Regions from separate parts of the Homo sapiens genome. Here region 2 is linked to region 1. The links come from fine-mapping of genetic effects on gene expression. Tissue or cell type: blood mononuclear cells. Region 1 holds a variant in brackets; the other region holds the start of a gene. All regions are shown on one strand. Distances are between the middles of the regions.

What was found. PIP is the estimated chance that this variant, and not a neighbour inherited with it, causes the effect.
Region 2: MPRIP starts here. The variant in region 1 is fine-mapped to the expression of MPRIP in blood mononuclear cells (TOPMed, PIP 0.96).

Annotation. Positions count from the first base shown.
Region 1 is chr17:17,018,066-17,026,239 of GRCh38, reverse strand. No RefSeq gene overlaps it. Among named protein-coding and RNA genes, the nearest start is that of MPRIP, 20 kb to the left of the region's middle. RefSeq lists an enhancer at 5,521-6,468. The variant T/C (reference allele first, on the strand shown) is at 3,845.
Region 2 is chr17:17,037,947-17,046,120 of GRCh38, reverse strand. It overlaps MPRIP (myosin phosphatase Rho interacting protein), which reads right to left and starts at 3,664. Exons shown (of 24, transcript NM_001364716.4): 1 at 3,150-3,664. The coding sequence starts at 3,272. LOC124903938 (a long non-coding RNA gene) reads left to right here and starts at 3,796. Exons shown (of 3, transcript XR_007065644.1): 1 at 3,796-3,850; 2 at 4,213-4,340; 3 at 6,364-6,778. RefSeq lists silencers at 1,672-1,966, 3,640-4,099 and an enhancer at 1,778-2,977.

The DNA of each region.
Region 1 (8,174 bases):
CTGACCTCAAGGGACCCTCCCACCTCGGCCTCCCAAAGTGCTGGGCTTACAGGTGTGAGCCACTGTGCCCGGCCTAATTTTTTTTAATGAATAAGAAATGCAGGCTCTGGAACCTGGCTTAAATCTCTGCTACTTTTGGCTGGGTGACCTTGGTTTCTCTGCTTCCGTTTCATCATGTGTATGTTTGGGGGTGATCCTACTACTGTAACAACAATGGATTATCCAGAGCAGAAATGAGGTGCCAAGCACCCAGCGCCGTGCCTGGCACATAGGAAGTGTCAATGAATTGGTACCAATGATTGATAGTGAGATTTACACCATGAGCCACGAGACATTTACCTACAAATATTAGCCAAGCACTGCGTGTGCCAGACCCTGGGCTGGGCTCTGGGTATAAAGCAGGAAACAGAACAGACCCAGCCCCTTTGCTCAGGGAGCTGACATTCTAGCGCCTTTGCTGTCAGCAACAGCTCACTGTGACTTGCCCACAGCTGCACAGCTAGAAGTGCTTCAGGGGACCCAAGCCTGACCCCTCTGTGGGGGAAGCATATGCTTTTGCTGCCTGTGCTTGGGGTATTCCTGAGGTCCTGACAGACAGTCCCTGCCCAGCCCAGGGATCCTGTGCCTGTCACCTCCAGAGAGGTGGGACAGAAATCCCGGGAGCTCAGAGCAATAAGGGCTGTGAGTTAGTGAGTGACACCCACTACTGGGCTCCAGGAGGGAGAGTACAGGGTGCTGTGCCTCTCTGCAGGGTCTCCAGGGGAGCCAGGCCCACAGCAAGGCCCCACTCACTAACATAGGTCACTTTGGCCTCCCTCCCTCAGGTCTACCTCCTCCCTCCTCTATTGGTGTTTCCTGGGACCATATGTCCCCCAAAACAACTTGTCCCCAACCCTATGTCAGAGCCTGCTTTTGAGGGTGCCCCTTAACAGAGCCAGCCATGGGCCATGTGGGGTGATATATCAGAGGGGGTGGGGATGCCCCTGGCCAGGGGTGTGGGCCCGGCTGCCCTCTGGGACAGCTAGACAGGAGCCCTGTTCTTTCTCAGGAAGGTTCTGCAGAGAGCAAGTGGTCTGGCTGTGGATTCAGTCAGCTCCTGGCTTTTGGAGATACTCCTGGCTGCTCTCCCAACCCTGAGTCCCTCGGGAGGCCATGGTCACCGAAGGGAGGGGGCTGGCTTTCAGCAGGACCATGTGGTTGGCCCTGACCCAAGGGAGAGGGGCCTACCCATGTGGGGCATGGGGGATGGAGTCAAGTACTTCCCAACAAGCCTGGCTGGAGCCCTGCTCGAGGAATGGGGTGCCTCAGGGTCTCCTGCTTCCCACCTGCCCTGACCTCTGGCACCAGGCTCTGTCCTTACTAATAGCCTCTGGACAGCAGGCGGAAGCCCAGAGCTGTGTGGCCTTCCCCGAGCTCTCCGAGGCCTGCCGTGGCTCCCCCTGCCCCTACAGTTTCTGCCTGTGCTTTGTACTTGGGATCTCGGGGGCTTCGTGGCACCAAGGGCCTACCAGGCTTTTCGGGAATTTAGCACTGGGGGCCACAGGGCATAGGGTAGGTAGGATCAGGCACCCAGGCGGGGAAAAGAGCCCTCTCGGACGGCCAGGAAGATGCTGCCAGCCTGGATCCCAATGTCGCGGACGCTCTCAGTTCATCCTTCTTGCCACGAATCCCCCAAATGGCATCAGTAGCCACAGCAACAGGAGCAATAATTATCTCTCTCTATGTGGAGATGGGCTCTTTACAGAGGTCATCAAGTTAAACTGACGTCAGTAGTGTGAGCCCTTATCCAGCATGACCCGTGCCCTCATAAAAAGGGGAAATTTGGGTCCGGGCATGGTGGCTCACGCCTGTAATCCCAGCACTTTGGGAGGCCAAGGCGAGCAGATCACAAGGTCAGGAGTTCCAGATCAGTCTGGCCAATATGGTGAAACCCCGTCTCTACTAAAAATACAAAAATTACCTGGGCGTGGTGGCGGGTGCCTGTAGTCCCAGCTACTCGGGAGGCTGAGGCAGGAGAATCACTTGAACCCGGGAGGCGGAGGTTGCAGTGAAGCCAAGATTGTGCCACTGCACTCCACCCTGGGCAACAGAGCAAGACTCCATCTCAAAGAAAAAAAAAAAAAGGTGGGGGGGAATTTGGACCCAGAGATGTGCATAGAGGGAAGACAAGGAGAAGAGACATGGGGGGAAGACAGCGCTACCGTGCCAAGGAGACAGTCCCAGAACAGAGCCTTCCTGCACAGCCCTCAGAAGGCCCTGTCCACAGACACCTTGATCTGGGACTTACAGCCCCCAGAACTCTGAGAAAATTGCTTGTTTTAGCCACCCAGTCCATGGTATTTTGCCACAGCAGCCCTAGTAGACTAATGCACATTTTTATTGCGATACAGTCCACTCGCCAGGCGTGGTGGCTCATGCCTGTAATCCCAGCACTTTGGGAGGTCAAGGCAGGTGGATCACTTGAAGTCAGGAGTTTGAGATCAGCCTGGCCAACATGGTGAAACCCTGTCTCTACTAAAAATACAAAATTAACTCGGGTGTGGTAGTGGGTGCCTATAGTCCCAGCTACTCAGGGGGCAGAGGTGAGAGAATCGCTTGAACCCAGGAGACAGAGGTTGCAGTGGGCCTAGATTGTAACATCGCACTCCAGCCTGGGTGACAGAGAGAGACTCCATCTTAAAAAAAAAAAAAAAAAGAGAGAGAGAGAGATACAATCCCCATGCCAGAAAATTCATTCATTTAAATTGTACAATTCAGTGATTTTTTATTCTAGTAAAATAGTTGTGCATCCATCACCATGACCTAAGTTTAAAAGATTTTCTTCACCCCAAAAGGAAGCCCTGTACCCACTAAGTGGTCACTCCCCATCCCCTCCCCGCAGCCCCTGGTAGACACTCGCCTGCTTTCTGTCTCCACGGATTTGCCTGAGCTGGACATTTCAATACATGGGATCAGACAATCTGCAGCATTTTGTGTCTGATTCCTTCACTCAGCATCATGTCTTCGAGGCTCATGCACACCATGGCAAGTCCACACATCATTCCTGTCTGCGACTGAATAACAGTCCATTGTACTGATGATCCGTTCATCAATTGCTGTGTCATACAATTTTGTTTTAAAAGGAGGATCTGAAGCATGGCAAATGTTCACATGTGTTAAATCCAAGTGGTGAGAACATGGATATTTGGTATTTTTCCTTATATTTTTCTGGATGTTTGAAAGGTTTTATAATTTTTATGTTAATAAATATCATTTCAAAATATGTATTGAAGGAGAAAGAGGAATCTCCAGGCGCAGAAGGGAGGGGAGTTGTTGACATGCTAAAGAAAAAGATGGGTCTGGTATTAGGAAAACAGCAAAGGATTCCTGAACCTTCTTTCTTGACTTCCTGTTCCGAGTGTCACAGGGACAGGGATGTTACTTAGCAGCCTCAGCCTATGAGCCCCACAAGGGTGGGGACCAGTCTGTGGTATTCTCAGCTCCCTTCCCAGCAGGGCCTGGCCCAGAGGCAGTGCTCAGGGAAGGTGTGGGATATTCCCTGAGAGTGGGAAGGGGCCACCAGGCTGCTGGGTTGGACCTGGCTCCCCAGCCACTGCAGCCTTCCCCTCTCCCAGCCAGCAGGCTCAGCTCCAGCCCCAGCCCCACTTCAGTAACCGCCACGCGCATTGATGGGGAACTCACTGCCTTAGGAGGTGGTCACCCCACTGCTGACCACCAGGGAGGGGCGCCCATAGCCCCTTCTACTTGAGAGATAGTCCAGTGGCAAGCCCAAGGTGAAAGGCTCAGAGGACAGATGTGTCTGGGGACATGGAGTGGTCTCACCTGTCGCCACTGACCCTGTGCC[T/C]GGTACTGGTCCTGGGCTTTCCTTGTGTTTCATTCTCCCAACAGCTGCAAGAGAAGGACTCTAATGATCCCATGGAAAGATGGGCTCCAAGGGGCACAGTGCTGGCCAGATGTCCCATGGCCAGGACCCGAGCTCATTCTGCACACCATGCCCTCCTTATTAACTCATCACACCCAGCAGCAGACCCAAGGCCCTGGGACTGAGACCTGCCTCTGCCCAGGGACTCCCAAGCTCACCTGGTCATCAAGCCTCCACTGCCCTAGCCCGGGGTGGGTTGCCTGCATGGCACCCCGGGCAAGGAAGATCTGGGCCTACCGGATGAGCTAGGTCTGTCAGCCCTTTTGTTTATAGAAGCTTTTGGGGGGCCTTGTGGCCAGGTGTTGAAACAAAGGTGTCTGTGTCTCCATAAGTCCATTTGGATTTCATCCTACTTGCGTAGGATGAAAAATCTACATTTTTCACCCAAGATGATGCCTTATCTGGCAAACACTGTGCCGTGATGGGTTTATAGGCGCTGTGGCTGAAAGGCAACCCTAGCCCTAAAGGAGAGGCTGTTTCAGATTCCCCTGTGAGCTGGAAGTGGTGGGAGGAGAGCAGGCTTCCTTATCCCAGTGTCATGACCAGGCCAGGCCAGCCCTGCACCCTCTTCACCAAGGTCCTGCCTAGCTCTGCTCCGGGGCAGGCTGAGCTGGGAAACAAGTCAGTAAGTCCATAGTACAGCTGGGGGCCCCTCCTTCAGTGAAAAGGCACAATCGTGCTTCTCAGGAACCAGCTTCAGATGGAGCCCAGAGGGGTGGGAGGGAGGGGACTGGTCTCCCCTCCTACCACACTGGCATTCTTTCCTCAAAACCTTGCAAAATATGACTGTGCGGCTCCCTGCTGTGGCACGGCACTTGTGGCATCATCGAAATGCCAGTAGGGGCTGGCACCGGGCTGCCCACGGCCCCAGCAGGCACTGTCCCCGCTCCCCTGGGCTATGAGGAGCTAAGCGGGTGGGCCCCTCCCACTTCGTCTGAGGCCCAAGAATGCTGTCATCTGGCCACCCACAGCTTTATCAGTGTGGCCTTTCTCAGGATTGCTGGGACAAAGGGCGTGGGTGTTTTCAGGACTCCGGCGGATTCTGGGAATGTCTCTGCCTTCCCAAATCGCCAGTTCCCGGAGGAGGACAGGACCCTCACCCACCTCCTCACTAAAGGAGAAACTGAGGCCCAGAGCAGGGTAGGGACTTGTCTGAGGTCATGCCTGCTTTGTTGGTGAGAATCGGACCTTACTTACCATTTCTGGGTCACAGGCTCCTTTGACAATGTGAAGGAAATTCTAGACCCATTACTCCAATGCCCAAGGGCCAGGCCTGCGGTGTTGATGGCTGGCATGGTCTGCTCGGCATGGGATTTGTCTGGAGCCCATGTCCCCCACCTCTGGCTCACTGTGGCCCTGCAGGGCACCCGGTCGTCCAGTGTTTCAGAGGAGCCAAAGAGCCATCTTTCTGTGTGAAAGCTACTCATGTTCAAATGTTGGCAATGCATTAAAAATGTAAAACTAGACCGGGCACGGTGGCTCACGCCTGTAATCCCAGCACTTTGGGAGGCCAAGGCAGGCGTATTACGAGGTCAGCAGATCGAGACCATCCTGGTTAACATGGTGAGACCCTGTCTCTACTAACAATACAAAAAAATTAGCCGGGTGTGGTGGCGGGTGCCTGTAGTCCCAGCTACTCGGGAGGCTGAGGCAGGAGAATGGCGTGAACCTGGGAGGCGGAGCTTGTAGTGAGCTGAGATGGCGCCACTGCACTCCAGCCTGGGCAACAGAGTGAGACTCCGTCTCAAAAAAAAAAAAAAAAAAAAGGTAAAACTATATATTATGTCAGCCCAATTAAACATCTGTGGGCCAGATGCGGGCTGAGGACCACCAGAATGGGACCCTTGCTCTCGATCCTCTTCCTGTGAAAAAGCGCACACCATAGCATGGGCCTGGGAAGCTCATCACCCAGGCAAGAGGCCTGTCACCTGAAGCTGGTGGCCATGCGGTTTCCGTGACAGGCACTGGTGGAGTTGACAGAGTTCTGGACAAGGAGTCGCAGGCTGGCCGTCAGGCTGGCTTGCCCAGACTTGCCATGAGGAACTCCACAAGCATCTCTTTCCAGTTGAAGAGCCTGGAGCCCAGAGTGGCCGAACAAGCTGGCCAGGCCCCCCGCCGAAGGAGTCAGGGAGCTGGGAGGAGGTGAGGTCAGAGCGGAGGTGGCTCATCACTCCGGGCCGTGGCTTGAGGAAGCAGAAGAGGGTGGGATCCAACTTTGTTCCTGCACTTGGCCCTTAATTTGTTGAAGCTCAGTGGTCAGTTCACATCGGGGGTCAGAGTGACTCTGGGGTGCGAGATGACTAAGTACCCACAGGGCCCAGGCTGGGGACACAGCCTTCCCAAGGAGTCAGACACAGCCAATTCTCACTCCTGGACAGGGAGGTGAGCACAACATACCAATAACAAGCTCTGGGGACCCTGGATAGGGGGCTGGGCCGCCTGGCCTTTCGCCTGCTGCCCAGTTGTGTGTGAGAGGCAGTAATCACCTCCCTGGTTCAATTTCCTTCTCCCTTCCCACCCAAAGTTTCTTACCTGACAGATTGGGGGCAGTGTGGGGTGGTGAGAAGAGAGCAGTCTGGGACCAGGTGCACCTGTCTAGGTACAATTCTGGGCCAAGGGACCTTGGGCCATTCCCTTCCCTTCTCTGAACCTGTTTCCTGAAGTGTTAAGTGAAAAGGGGCAGTGGAGAGTGGGGCACGAGGTCACCAATGGAAAGCCACGTCTGGGCCACTTCACGCCCTCTCCCCTTCCCAGGTGCCCTGCAGTGAAAATGGTCACATCCCAGCTGTCGCTCTCCCTTCCTGTGGTCCAGATCCCAAGTCCTGACTGCAGAGTCTGCTAAAAACACAAATCGAGTCTGGCCACCTTCCACCTCACCCTCTCCTCTTGGCTCCTCCATGCCCCCAGAACCACACTTGGTTGCCCCCATGGCTTCCTGGCCCTGAGGCCTGCTCCCCACCCCCGCTGCCATGTCCTTTCTCCCCACTGCCAGCCTCTGTTCAGGACCTCAAAATCCTCATTCTTTCCTGCCTCGGGACCTTTGCACTCACCATGCCCCAACCCAAGCTAGTCTTTGTAGTCCGCCCCCTCCAAGCCACCTTCCCCACTCCCCCAAAACAACCTCCTCTGTCCTTGGCCCTCAGAGCTGCCCATGGAGCTGCCACCATCCCCCTGCCTTGAGTTCCCATCTCCCTGTGTGCCCACTTGGTTCTCATCTGCCCCCTGCCCCACCAGGATGGAAGATCCATCAGATTAGGCAGCAGACCCCTCCTGCCCGTCCCATGTCCCCAGCTGAACTGGAATGTTCAGCAACCATGAATGAATTCTGGAATCTATATTGGGCCTTAGACAGGCCAAACACTCTGTCCTGGGCTGTGGCCCTGGGCAAGTCTGGTGTGAGCCCTGTCTAGGGAGGGGCCCTGGAGGGGGAAAGCTGCCTGATGGTCCTCGCCTGAGGACACCTGCCCCTGAGCGTGGATATGGGCCCTGAAGCTCTGTACCCGGCCAGACAGGTTCGACAGGATTGCTGTGGACAGAACTCACTCAGCCTCTGTTCAGAACAGCGTGTCCCTCACCTGCGGGAGGTCTGAGGGCTCCTGGCCCAGGAGGTCTGGCTGAGCCTCTCTCTCCCTGGCCTGGGGACTCTTCCTCAGCCTCCCTGGCCTTCAGGGCCCACCTCACCATCCTCCAACAACACCTACCAGGAGTCTGCGATGCACAGGGGCTCTGCCTGGAGTTGGGGGTTCAGCGGTGAGCAGGAAGGATGGATCCCAACCTTTTGTGGGAGTCATAGTTCAGGAACATCAGGTGACATCGAGTGGCTAGGGCCTGAGAGTGGGGATACATGTATGTCTCTGGGAAGAGCCCTGGCTATGGTGGGCTCCCCCGACCTGAGAGGAGGATCTGAGCGTATGTGGAGGGGTCCAGAAAACACCAGTTGCTGAGTCAGGAAATGAGGCAGGAAGTGAGGCAGGCAAGAGAAAGAGCCGAGGCAGGCTGTGCCAGGGAGCACTCTGGGCACCTGAACCTCCATCCCTGGGGGAGGATCCCTTCCTGGCGGGGTGGAGGGGGTGACAGGGAGCGCTGTGGGCACATGGAGCTCCCTCCCTGGGGGAGCAGAACATACCTCAGAGGCTCCCCAGCCCGGCCAGCCAGCTGGGGTGTTGAACCCAACTCTCACGGGCATTGGCTGCCAGCAGTTCTGGGTTGATGGTGATGGAGCTGGTTCTGCGGTTCCCCGTGGGGTGCAATG
Region 2 (8,174 bases), 20 kb before region 1:
TTTAACTGTATATTTGAGCTGGGCACAGTGACTCACGCCTGTAATCCCGGCACTTTGGGAGGCCGAGGCAGGCGGATCACGAGGTCAGGAGATCAAGACCATCCTGGCTAACACAGTGAAACCTCGTCTCTACTAAAAATACAAAAAATTAGCCAGGCATGGTGGCGGGTGCCTGTAGTCCCAGCTACTCGGGAGGCTGAGGCAGAAGAATGGCATGAACCTGGGAGGCGTAGCTTGCAGTGAGCTCAGATCGCGCCACTGCACACCAGCCTGGGCAACAGAGCGAGACTCCGCCTCAAAAAAAAAAAAAAAACTGTATATTTGGGTCCGTATGTCGCTGAGAAATGCACAGGAAAACTGGAGGATAAATGACACTCTGTGAACAGGGGCCTGGAACAAGTAATAAAGGACGGTCACTTATCACTTATCCCAGATTACTCCAAATTTCCGTGAGGAGGAAAAGGCAAAGAACTCCACTGCTCCAAGCCAGCATTCTCAAGGCACCTCCTGCAACATAACTATCCCTGACATTATTGTCCTCATCATGTGCTCATGGTGTGGCCACTGTAGACCCTGAACAGGAGTAGGGGAACTAACATTGGCTTCAGAATCCTGGCTCCATCCCTGAACTGGGCAAGTCACTTCCCTTCTCTGGGTTTCAATCTTCTCACCGGTAAGAGGAAGTGGTTACATTAGCTGATCTCCAAGTCCCTTCCAGGTCTGATGCCATAATACAGTCCCTGCAAGAGGTTTCTGTGCCTCTCTAGGGGAAAAACAAACAAACAAAACCCACAGCTGAGGAAATAAACCTCAAACCAAAAGGCTCAGAGAAATGTCTGCTCCTGGGAAGATGACATCTCCAGAGCAAAAGCCGGCCAAGGCTGCCCACCACCTCCCTGGGCCCAGTATCCTCTCCTCTTAAGGAGGGAGTGGCCTCGATGGTGGCTGATGTATCTTCCAGCTTTGACGGTCTAAAATAAGCTCCAGGCTGGGAGGGGCAGCAGGAAGCAGGGGCTTGGGGGAGACTGATGGGAACCGATTGGTTGAGGTTTTCTAATGGAGCCATAAGGATGAGAGTGAGAGGGAGGGCCGGATGCAGAGAGCAGCAGAGAAGGCTGTTGGCAACAGCCCTGAGTCTCCCTCCTCTCTTTTCAAGAGCAGTTTCTTCCTGAAAGATCCCAGGAGGTAGAATGCTGGGCTAACCTCTCCCAGCACAAATAACCCCACTCATTATTTCAGAAACTACCATTCCAGTTGTGCCCTGAAGGTCTCAGGCCTGTTTCAAAACCCACAATTCAACTTTGAATACAGTGAGAGTACAGTATTTTAAGTTTGCCTCTCCCCGTGAATCCAATTAATAATCAACAGATTAAAAAAAATCTTAGCAGATTGGACTCAAACATGCAGATTCCATCCTAGTTTATCTAAGCTTAAGAATTCGAAAACAGCCCCTATGAGGTGTAAATTTACCAATTTTGACAGTTGCTTAGAATAACCAGGAAACTTACAAACCTCTCTCAGAACAACCCTTGCCCAGAAACTTCTTAAAGTGGCAGGTTTTTTTGGTTTGTTAAATTGTAAGAGAAAAAAGTTTCATAAAATATCATTTCTTGCTTTTCACAAATGCTCAGTGAAGGAGGTAAGCCAGGGACCAGGATTCCCAATTTACAGATAAGGAAATTAAAAGATACAGAAGTAAAGGGATTTGTTCAAGGTCACACAGCTGGAAGTGACAGCCAAGACCTGAAGCAAAGTCTCCTAACAACTCCTCATCGCATAAACTGTTTCATCCAAAAAAGCATCCAGATGAGAAGAAGGAATCAAGTTCTCCTTTACACTCCAAAACACCCTCCGAGGTAAATGAGTTCTATCCGTCCCAAGCTGACCGTCCTTAAAACCCTTGGTATCTTAACCATCTATGACTTTGCAGCCTTGAGTGTTTCGTTAAGCTTTTGGGGTTTAGATGAAAGGAATCTTTTCCTGGCAGTTGGAAACCTGACCTCAGAGAAAGGCCCCGTGCCCCAGGCCGTAACCCCTGCCCCACCACCCTACTCCAGTCGGCCATGTAAACAAGTCAAACCCTGGGTGCACTGAAGTGGCATTAAAAACAACCAGGCCCGTTCACTCGTTTTCAGTCTAAGGGGTTCTTCTGCGACAGGAGTGGCTACAACTAGGTCACACTGGACTGGAATGTGAAGGGACTTCCCCTGGCTTCATTCAGGAGGCTGAGAGAAAGCTCTGAAGAGGATGGAGATGATGGCCGTGGGGAGGGTACCGAGGCACATCCCAAGGAGGTGCACACAAGGCTCGGAATCCTGGAACACTAGGAGTTCAAACAGCAATCACTGCAGGGGTTCCCAAGGGCCATGGGGGCTGCAGCCAAGCCTCTTGGAGCCTTTCATCAATACAAATTCCCCATCTCCCCAGTCACTCCAGGGCGGGGGCCCCAGAACTCTGTGTTTAATGGCTATGACTCTAATGCACGTTTGGGAGTCATAACTAGTTCAAAGCCCTGTTTGACAGTTAAGGCTGGGAGACAGAAATCAACTTTCCCGAGGACCCACAGGTCTCCTCACCCCTCGGCCAGTGACCAGGGAACTGGTCCCAGCTCCCCGCTAAACTACGGCCTGCCAAACTAAGTTCAAGAACAAGACCCTCCTCGCCAGATTTGGACACCCCTTCACCTCTCTCCAGTGCTTGACAGTGACGATGATTCAGAATCGGGGCAGGCTGCGTCCCACTAGACGGAAGCCCACAGTCCTCCCCAACAATCCGACCCCTGGGCCACTCTGGCTGGACAAATCCAAGTCCAGTCCCAAGCCAGAATCTCAGGGGGGTCCCGTCAAGCGGCATGCAATCCCTAAGCGCTTTGTTCCTACTAAGCGAAACCAGGCACTTTTGAGTCACCCAAAAAGCATGAATCACACAGCCGGGCAATGGGAACGGGAAAGGATGTTATTTTTCGGCATACTCGAGGATTTTCCCTTTGTCCCAGCTCTGTCAATGCACTTCCCGTCCCCGTCCCCATGCCCCAGGACTCGCGCATTTCCCTGCTCCATTTTTATTTTCCCTGCAGCCCTTGGCGGCGCCCCGGCCGCCGACCCGCGGCTCCCAGAACGGAGGTGTCCGGGCCGGCCCCAGTCGCTCACCTGCGTCAGGTCCTCGTCGTTGAGCAGATGCGACTCGCGGGGCTTGAAGCAGTTCTGACACTTGCTCTTGTTGAAGATGTTGGCCTGGAATTTCCTGCACGGGTTCTCCTTGGCTGCCGACATGGTCGGCGCGGCGGCGACGGCGGCGGCGGCGGCGGCGCAGGCCTGGCCGGCCTGGCGCTCCCGGCGGGCTAGGGGCTCAGCGCGGCCGCGCCGCATCCCTCGCCGGCCCCGCCGCAGGCCCGGCCCGGCCTCCTTCCCGGCGGGCGGTTCGCTGCACGCGCCGAGGCTCCTGAGCCGCCCGGGCCTCACAGCGCGCGCGACGCCCAGCTCCCGCCCGCACCGCCGCCGCCCGGCCGCCGCGGGCCCATGGACGCGGCCTCGGGCCCGCTGCTTCCCGCTGCGGCCCGCCTCTCAGGCTCCGGTCGCCGCCGTCCCGGCTCGTCCGCGCCGCCGCAGCTGCCCTCGGCGCCCCGCGGCCGCTGCAAATGGGACCGGAGCGCCTCACGCACTACGGGGGCGGGCGGGCGGGCGGGCGGGCGGGCGGCCGGGCGCGGGGAGGTGCCGGGGCGTACGGGGCGGGGCCGCGCCCGACGCGATCGGCAGCCCCACCGGCCAATGGGGTTGGCGCGCTCTCGCTAACAAAGGAACCTCTGGGCCAATGGCAGTCGGGGGCGGGACCGAGGGCCGCCGAGCGCAAGGTAAGTTGTGCAGGCCGGGAAGGTGGGGGCGCCGGCATGGGACGTTCAGGTTTGGTGGACTGGCGCCGAGGCCGGCCGGGCTGACAGCTGCAGGGCCCGGGCGGGGGATGCGGGGGAAGGCGGAGCCGACCTCAGGCTGCCTCTCTGCAACCCCCTCGCTCCCAGGCTCGCCTTCCCGCGCCCACGCTGTACACCCAACGGAGGCATCTTCCCCAAGCCCAGCTCGGAGAGGATTAGTTTAGCACCTACTGTGTACCAGGCCCCCTCGTAGGAGTCAGTTAGCGTCGGGAAGGGCTGGATACTCCAAGGGCTCGCTCATTAAAGGTTCGCAACCTCTCCTTTCTCATCCCCATTTTACATAGGAGGAGACTGAGGAGCAGAGAAGTAACAGCGGGTAGTATTTCAAGGGATGACTAAGAGAAGATGTCAGCGGACTTGAAGAGCTGTCAGCTCCATTAGGGGAGATGAGCGAAGGCTGACTCTCTGCCAGGTGCTGAGCTAGGCATTCTTTCCCCCATGATGTGCTTGAGGAAATGAAGGGTCAGACACCTGGAGTAATTTGTGTAGGATCACTCTGCTAGGAAGGGGCCGAGCTGTCACTCCCGTCCTCCATTGTCCAGCCTCCTGGCCAAAAGACAACCTGGAAAAGGCTGTCAAAGGCTCAGGCAGAAGGTTGCAGGAGCCCAGAGAGGGGAGAAATGCGCTCTTTAGAAAAATTCGGGTGGCTTCAAGGAGGAGGGGAAGTTTAAGTGGACAGTGAGAGGGTTGAGTGTGGCTGGAAGTGGAGATAGGGGAAGAAGGAGCAAGAGGGATTGGAAGAGGGCTCTATCACCCAGGCCTTGTATTCCAAGCCCAGGCGTGCACATGTCATCCCACTGGCAGCTGGGAGTCATGGTGAGTCTTTAAACAGGGGGGTGAGCTAACCCAGCCTTCACGGAGGAGGTGACATTGGAGCATGTGGTAGTGGCAGCCACAGCAGCTGTCGCTCAGGGAATGGAGGAGGTTTTAGGAGGAGAAGTAGCAAATGCTTCCAGAGCTGTGTACTTTTCCACGGATCATCTGGTAAATATCCCAGGGAGGTGGATTTCAACTTAGTGTAAGAAAATGCTTTTCCTCAAAAGGGAGCTGTGGGAAGGCAGATCAAAGTCCTTTGGCAGCCTAAGGGGGAAAGCCCAGCTCCACCAGGCAGGAGCTCTGTGGCCTCGGGCAAGTCCCTTAACCTGCCTGGTGCCTCAGTGACCTCATGTACAAAATTGGCATTAATTAATTAATGTGAACATTAAATGATATAATGCTTGTTAAGTAGCATAATGTTAATTGGTGAATCTAGGCAAAAGGTGTTTATTGTACTATTCTTTTTTTTTTTTTTTTTTTTTTTTTTTTTTGAGACGGAGTCTCGCTCTGTCGCCCAGGCTGGAGTGCAGTGGCGGGATCTCGGCTCACTGCAAGCTCCGCCTCCCGGGTTCACACCATTCTCCTGCCTCAGCCTCCCGAGTAGCTGGGACTACAGGCGCCCGCCACTACGCCCGGCTAATTTTTTGTATTTTTAGTAGAGACGGGGTTTCACCGTTTTAGCCGGGATGGTCTCGATCTCCTGACCTCGTGATCCGCCCGCCTCGGCCTCCCAAAGTGCTGGGATTACAGGCGTGAGCCACCGCGCCCGGCCTTATTGTACTATTCTTGCAACTTTTCTGTTGCTTTAAATTTTTGCAAAATAAAAAAGGGACGGAAGACTGACAATTCTGCCCTGCAGAGAATACTCAGAAACTGATAGAAGAGGTGGCCACTGGGGAGGGGAGCTGGGTGGTTGAGAGGTGACCTACTTTTAATTTTCATTGCAATCCCTTTTGTTTCTGCTGAATTTAGTATTGTCTGCATGTACAACTTGTTTAAAAATATATATATACATACATATATATATATATATATATATATATTTTCTTTCTTGATGTCCTGCCCATTCCTCAAGGCCACCTCCCTTAAAGTGCTCAGCATGTTCTGCTCAGGTCAGTAGGCACATCCAGCACCTGCACTGGACTGGAGGGGTCCACAGTAGGGGCGCAAAGAAGAGTTTCATTCAGCAACTCAGAGGCAGCCTGCCCGGCAGGAGCCCACACTCAAGCAAGTGGAGACAAACAGAAACAGGAGACAGAGAAGTTCAATCCGGGGTGTTGTGGGGGCCCACACAGGGGCACCCAGCCCCGTAGGCAGCTTCAGGGAAGGCTCCTGGAGGAGGCAATGCCTAGGCCGAGTCTGGAGCTGAGTAAGACCCAGCCAGAGAAGGTGAAGGGAAAGACACGTCAAACTGGGGCACCAATTATAGAGTCTCAGGCCTTGAAACCAAAGGGTGTGTTCATGAACAGAAGCAGCTTTCTATCACTGGGTAGTTCAGAGAGGCAGGAGTGACCAGCATTGAGAGGCACTGGGAGGAGTAGTGGATGGTGCAAGCCTAGCCTCTTCAGGGAGACAGGTATGGTTTTTGTTGTTAATACTATTTCATCTCCATTTTATAGAAGACACACACGAGGCTCAGGACATATCAGGAACTTGCCTGTGGTCACAATTATAGATCCTACAAGTGAAGATTTGAGCCCACACAGGCCAGCACCGGAGCTGCCTGGGCCAGGGGCAGTCATCAATTTTGAATTTTTTTCGGCTGAGCACTTAGGTAAGGGCTGCTGATCTGGAGAATGAATCAGGGGCAAGGACTGAGAGAGCTGCAGAGGAGAGAGGGTAGCAGCCTGACTAGGATAGGGTCAGTGGGAGGCAAGGGAATGAATTTGGAAAATGTTTAGGAGGTAGAATCAATTAGTTGCGCTCCTCTCCAAAACCCTCACGGTAGAGTGGGGTCTTGGTTGCTACTCCATTTCCCCTGTCTAGTTCAGTGCCTGGCATAGAGCAGGGGCTCAAAAACACCCCATGGGGGTGCAGTGGCTCACACCTGTAGTCCCAGCACTTTGGGAGGCCGAGGCGGGCGGATCATGAGATCAGGAGTTCGAGACCATCCTGGCTAACACAGTGAAACCCTGTCTCTACTAAATATACAAAAAATTAGCCAGGCTTGGTGGCAGGCGCCTGTAGTCCCAGCTACTAGGGAGGCTGAGGCAGGATAATGGCATGAACCCGGGAGGCGGAGCTTGCAGTGAGCCGAGATCGTGCCACTGCACTCCAGCCTGGGCGACAGAGTGAGACTCTGTCTCAAAAAACAAAACAAACAAGAAAAACACCCCATGGGTGAATGGATGAAAAGTCATCGTTCCACCTTGTATTGTAATATCTCCTCCACCAGATTATGAAATCCATACCGACACAGTCTGTGTCTCATAACCTTGGCTTCCCTTTCCAGGGGCCTAGAACAGCACTTTGCATGAAGTTCAATACTCAGTGTAAACATGTAAAGATTCACTGGGCTGTATGCTTTTTTCACTGCATTGTGTACACCTCAATGTATATTGTTTATCTCAAAAAAGCAAATAAGCAAGCAAGCAAGAAAAGGCCGCTCAGGTGAGCCCCAAATGCAGGTAAGTCTTGATTTGTGGCTCTGACTGCCATCCTGGGAAGTTTTCCCTGTGTCCTGTTAGGGAGCAGAATTTACACACAGATACCCAGAGGTAACCACTATTTTGATCTCCATCACCATAGATGAGTGGAATCCGCTGCGAGCTATGCCTGGCTCTTCTCATTCAACAGTATGCCTGTGAAATTCAATCCACACGGCTACTGTATATATCAGTACTTCATTCTTTTTCATTGCTGCCTGGTAGTCCCTTGTGTGGAAATACTACAATTTATCTGTCCATGTTCCCGTGGATAGACATTCAGGATGTTTCCAGTTTGGGGCCATTATGAATAATGCTACGAGTATCTTCGTGCTTGTCTTTGGTGGACATAAGCACTTCTTTCTTTTTTTTTTTTTTTTTTGTTTGAGATGGAGTCTCGCTCTTTCGCCCAGGCTGGAGTGCAGTGGCACGATCTTGGCTCACTGCAAGCTCCGCCTCCTGGGTTCAGGCCATTCTCCTGCCTCAGCCTTCTGAGTAGCTGGGACTACAGGCACTCGCCATCACGCCCGGCTAATTTTTTTTGTATTTTTTTAGTAGAGACGGGGTTTCACTGTGTGAGGATGGTCTCGATCTCCTGACCTCGTGATCTGCCTGCCTCGGCCTCCCAAAGTGCTGGGATTACAGGCATGAGCCACCGCGCCCGGCCAAGCACTTATTTCTATTGGGAATACCCAAGACTAGGGATGGCTAAGTTTTGGGAAGTGAATGTTTAACCTGATGGGAAACTGCCAAGCAGTTCTCCACACCTGAGAGCTGGGCTCTCA